Linked DNA regions of Homo sapiens: region 1 is linked to region 2. A link means that fine-mapping ties the variant in region 2 to the expression of a gene that starts in the linked region. Tissue or cell type: stomach. Region 2 holds a variant in brackets; the other region holds the start of a gene. All regions are shown on one strand. Distances are from middle to middle.

The links. PIP is the estimated chance that this variant, and not a neighbour inherited with it, causes the effect.
Region 1: ALDH1L1 starts here. The variant in region 2 is fine-mapped to the expression of ALDH1L1 in stomach (GTEx, PIP 0.93).

The regions. Positions count from the first base shown.
Region 1 is chr3:126,179,273-126,182,023 of GRCh38, forward strand. It overlaps ALDH1L1 (aldehyde dehydrogenase 1 family member L1), which reads right to left and starts at 1,314. Exons shown (of 23, transcript NM_012190.4): 1 at 1,204-1,314. It overlaps ALDH1L1-AS2 (ALDH1L1 antisense RNA 2), which reads left to right and starts at 793. Exons shown (of 2, transcript NR_046383.1): 1 at 793-1,272. RefSeq lists enhancers at 974-1,729, 1,730-2,483.
Region 2 is chr3:126,211,222-126,213,972 of GRCh38, forward strand. LOC124909426 (a long non-coding RNA gene) reads left to right here and starts at 1,811. Exons shown (of 3, transcript XR_007096060.1): 1 at 1,811-2,751. RefSeq lists an enhancer at 2,286-2,751. The variant G/A (reference allele first, on the strand shown) is at 1,539.

The DNA.
Region 1 (2,751 bases), 32 kb before region 2:
TGGCTCTCCAGGACCCAGCTTCTAGTCCCTGTGAGGCTGGGCCACCCTGCAGGACTGCAGCTCTGGGCCCTCTGTTCTGGTGCTAGGGCCCTGGGGCCCATGAATGCAGTTCTAGCACTCGGGAGGCTGAGGCGGGAGAATCACTTGAACCCGGGAGGCGGAGGTTGCAGTGAGCCGAGATCGTGCCACTGCACTCCAGCCTGGGCGACAGAGCGAGACTCTGTCTCAAACAAACAAACAAACAAACAGCAGCCAACATTCTCCGAGGGTTTCCTAGGGCCAGGCGCGGGGCAGTCTCATGTAATTCTCAAGCAATCTTGGGAGGCAGGCACTACTGTTCATTGCCCCTCCCGATTTTAGAGACAAGAAACTAAGATTCAGAACACAAGAAACTTGCCCAAGGTCAAGGAGAAGTGGAGGCGTGGGGAGGAAACAAAGTCACCTGACACCAGAGCCCATGCCTCCAAACTCCAAGTCTGGGACTCCTGATTAAATTCCGTCTCTGTCTGCACTTTGGGAAGATTCTTTCCTCTCCTAGGCAAGTGCCCGCGGGGCCTGAGCTCTCGATAGCGGGGCCCCAGGAGCCACGTTGTGGGGTCTGCTATCCGGCCTCCCTCTGCACGCGCGACCGTCCACTTGAGCGCAGTGGCTGGAGCTGGGACTCCAGCGCAGCCCCTGAGCGCTCACGTCGACCCCTCCAATCACAAGAGGCCCTCGTGCCAGGCCCCCAGATTTGGCCAATCAGGGAAGACCTTTCCCTGTCACAGAATGGGGTCGAGGGGCCCAGGAAACAGGTAGTCCCCAGTCACAAATCATCGCGTCGCCTTCGCTGGTCCCTTTCTCTTATCGAGCCTCAGTTTTCTCTTCCATAAGCCGGGCCAGCAGTGCCCACCCCACAGGTTGGCGCCAGCTCCGTAAGGGCCCTACCACCGCGGCCGGCCAGATCCTCGGCGGGCCAGTCCTGGCGCTGCGGTCATTTAGCCTGATGACCCCTGGCCAGGTTCAGCCTCAATTGCTCCAAAGAACTCCGGACCCGTACCCCGAGCCCGGCGTCCCAGCGGCGAAGTTGATGGGCCCCGCAGGAGCCCTTGCGGTGAGAACCGAGTCCTGGAGCCCCTGGAGCCCCCGGAGCCCCCGGAGCTGCAGCCGGGGCAGCCTCCTTTCCGCCGGGAGTCCAGCGCTCTCGAGAGCCCAGAAACTCACCGCGCGCAGGAGTTGGTGCGGGCGTCCCGGGCAGGTTAGACTTCTGTGAGCCGCAGCCCCGAAACTGAGGTTGGTGCAGACCCGTCCTGGGAGCCAGGAGGTGGGACCTGTCCCCGCCAGTCCGCGAGCTCTGGTTAAGGCCAGAGCCCGTGAGGGGAGGGGCGCGGGGCGGGCGGAGAGTCAGCCGAGTGGGGGCGGCGCTCACCGGTGGTGGGACTATGGCGGGAGCGCAGCGCACCCTCTCCGGGCGGGTCTATAAATGCCATGTAAAAGCCAACCCCGCAGGGGCCTGCGCTCTTTCCCGCTTAGGTCAAGAAGACTTACTGTGGACCCTTGGAGAATTCCCAGGGCTTTGAAAAGTCCCAAGCACCCAGCAGGGCTGGCAGTTCTGAGCGCTGGCAAGGCTAAGTGGGTCAGAGGAGACCCTCGCCAAGCCGGTGACTCACTCACTCGCTCACCCTCTCTCACTCTTGATGGGCCAAGTACCTGCCATGTGCTACGGACACAGCAGAGCGAAAGGAGACGCTGCCCTCCGGGAATTTGCAGCCGCTTGCAGAGGCGGCCCCTTAGCAGCTGCGCATCCGGGTGGATAGCGGCGCTTCTGCCCGCCCAGTGCCTACCCGCCTCTCCGAGAGAAAAACAGCCCCTGGTTTTCTCTCTGCAATTCCCCTTCTCCACTCTCTCCCTTCTACTCAGTCCTGGTGCCGCAGACCCCTCCTCCTGGTTCCCAGAGATCCTGGCCAGCCCGGTCTCAGGCAAGGCCATGTAGAATGCCGGGAGTGATAATTGCGTATTGTTTCATGACTGCAAGCCTGTGTCCAGGTGGCTCCTTCTCCTGGAACACCCTTCCCACCACACCTGCGGCCGCACTGCTCCGTGCCCTGCTAAGCCTCACTTCTTTTGAGGCGACCCTCTCGCTAAGTCCCGACCACCTGGCCCTCTCTCTGCTCAGTGCCTGAACACATCAGGCTTGCTGCAGCCCCTGCCTTTACCTCTCTACTTGTAGTGTTCTTTCAGAGCCTGCTCCCATATGGTATCACATATCAGATATCTGATGCAGAGCCTTAGAGAGGCTGTTCCAGGTCACACAAACTAAGGAAGTCCCTCAGCCACTCCCTGCCACATCACCCTGTTCTATTTCCTTCACAGCACTTAACTGTATATCTGATATTTCCTTGTTTCTTTGTTTGTTCATTGTCTGTCTCTCCCACTAGACTGTAAGCTCTTTGAGGACAGGAAATTTGTGAGATGTATTCACTGTTGTATCCCCAATACACAGTGATGGCTTGTAGCAGTTGCTAAATAAATGTTTGTTGAATGGCTTAATGCATGTATTTTGCTCACATAAGCCAGTATGGGCACCCAGGATTGAGGTGGCCTGTGCCTGCTGATCCACTTAGCCTACTTTCAGGCACTGTCCCCTTGTTCTTTAGGCTCCAGCCTGCAGGTCTCCCTGCTGTCCCTCATATCTGTGGAACTTCTCGACTCATAAAGTTTCCATGTGCCGTTCATCTTTGTCCAGAGAACCCCCATCATTCTTCAGGAAGT
Region 2 (2,751 bases):
GGCCGGGAAGCTCCGTCTCCAGGGAACAACTTGGGAATAACTGCACAGCCTCCCACAGTGCTTGACAGATACTGATTGGATACTGATAGGAATAAGGTGTCACAGGCAGCTTCCATCATGATCAGCTTCCATCATGGATCATGAAGTTCACATGAAGATTAGAAAGTGGGCTTCATGCTTGGGTGGGACACAGAGCTCACCCACTGGCTGAGATATTCATTTCTCACACAGGTGAAGTCAAAGGCCTTACACACAGGACCCCCACACCCACAGGCCTCACACTTGGCCCTGGAGGCTGCAGGCTGGCAGCCCAGTGTGTGGGGTCCCCCTGCTAAGCCCCTCCAGCCTGCCCCTATCCACACCCGTCCTCCGCCTCTGCATCTGACCCGGCTCCCACATCACACCGCTGGGGGCTCCTACCTCCTGTGGGCCTCACTGCCTAAGAGTCTTTGAACCTCTTAGTCACTCTGAGCCTTCCATGGTTTGGTCCTTGGAAACCAAAGGCTCACACAAGGTCCCATCTAAGGGGCCTGCCCAGGAGGCAGATCTGGTCAGTCAAGTCCTCTCTCAGCAGGAGTCCCCTGCAGGCAGAGACTCACGGCTGCTGAGCCAGGAAGTCAGGGCCACAAGACTTATAGCCCTGGCAAGTCTCCAGGTAGTTGACACTGGATACACTGCCATGGTGGGGCTGGAGGGTCAGCGGGCGGTAGGTCAGGATGTCAAAAACAGGGGAGATTGACCCTATAGATACACCTGTATGAGCACAAAATGGCAAGCACACAGCCCAAGTTCCTATCCACAGGGTGTCCGTTGAAAAGATCATGGGTACACCTTGGAGCACTTGAGGCGGATGTCAGAAAGAATGAAAAAGCTCTGTGCAGGCCTATGGAAAGGGCTCTGGGACTGAGGAAGGAAGGAGAGGGGGAAGGGAGGAAGGGAGGGAGTGAAGAAGGAAGGAAGGACGGAAGGAAGGAAGGAAGGAAAGGAGGGAAGGAAAGGAGGGAGAAGGGAAGGAAGAAAGAAGGAAGGAGAGAAGAAGGAGGGAGGAAGGAAGAAGAAAGGAAGGGAGGAAGGGAGGGAGGAAGGGAAGGAGGAAGGGAAGATGGAAGGAGGGAAGGAAGGAGGAAGGGTGGAAGGGAAGGAGGAAGGGAAGATGGAAGGAGGGAAGGAAGAAGGAAGTAAAGAAGGAAGGAGGAAGGGAGGAAAGAAGGAGGGAGGGAGGAGGAGAGAGGGAAGGAAGGAACGAAGGAAGGGAGGAAGGAAGGAAGGAAAGAGGGAAGGAAGGGAGGAAGGAATGAGGAAGGGAGGAAAGAAAGAGGGAGAGAAGGAAGAAGGAAGGAAGGAGGGAAGGAGGAGAGGAGGGAGGGAAAGCAAGAAGGCGGGAGGAAGGGAAGGAAGGAGGGAGGCGGGGAGGGGTACACAACAAGGGCAGCCTAGGCTCCGGTTGCTGTGACAAAGAAGCGGAGTGGCCCTGCTGCATTCTTTTGCTGGCATTTGGCATAAGCCTGTGATAGATAAAGAGCAGAAGGTGCCTTTAG[G/A]GGGCACCGAAGAACAGGGTCGATAGGGCTGGGGGAAAGCAAGTATTTCAAAGCTAACTTTTCCATCATTTTTGTGTTTGAACCATGTAAATGTATTGCCTGTCCCCCTAAAATGGATTAATTGAGAAGAGAGCGAGACCACGCCGAGCCTCGGGCCATCACAGCCTGAATGGGAAGCAGCGAACCCCGCTGTGACGGCTTCAGGCCCCGGCCTGTGGAGGGTGGGGGAGTCGCCCTTGGGAGGGGCTGGGCCCCACCGCCGGCTCTGCTTCTCACGGCAGGGGCGCCCCCAGGAAGGGACAGGACAGGGAGCTTTGTCCCGCAGCGAACGGGAACGCGGAGGCCCGGCCTCTCGCCTCCCCACCCTCCCCACCCTCCCCGCGCCTTCTCGGGCCTCCGCGTCCGCCCTGCGCCCTCGGAAGGCGCCGCCCGGCGGCCGCGGCCCTTCGCCGCAGCCAGAGTGCTTTGTCCGAGCTCAAAAAAGCCGTCTCCATGGAAGCGGCCCTTCCGCTCGGAGCCCGGCGGCCTGGAGGGAGACCCGGCGGGGATGCGAGGATTCCGCCCCAGCCCCAGAGGACGCGGCGGAGAGCCTGGAGGAGGCGCTTTGAGAGTCGAGGTCTCCCGCCCGCGCGCCTCCCTGGCGCAGACCTCTTTTAACTTTTTGGCGTGGAGTGCGCGTCCTGACGTGCCCCCTGAGCTACAGCTTACTGAGCTTTACTGGCTTCGCCGGACAGCCGTCCCCAGGTGGAGAGACAGCGCGTCGCGCGCTGCCCGGGCCCCGCAGGGCCTGGCGCCTGGGGCCCTTGCGCCGCTTTGGGGCGAGGGGATCACACCGCGGGCTCCCGGAGCTTAGCGTCTTCCACGCGGCGCTGTGTGTCATCCACGCAGTGTGCTCTCGCTGCCGTGTTCAGGTCACTGCGAGGGTGAGCCCCGCTTTATCTACCCCTTCTGCTGTTGATGGGCACTCGTCTGGGGCTAGAAGGGATAAGGTTGCTGTGAGCGTTCTCGTGTGTTTTTGGTGCACGCGCACACACATTTCTCTGGGGTGCAGACCTGTCTAGTAGTGGAACTGCCGTTTCCCAGCACTTTGGAGCAAAGCCCTGTTGCAGTCTGAAGCGGAAAAGGCAGACGGGCCTTCCATGTTCGTGATTCCAGCCAGGCACAGAAGGGAAGGACAGGGACAGCAGCCGCGCGGAGGCGAGGAGGGACACTG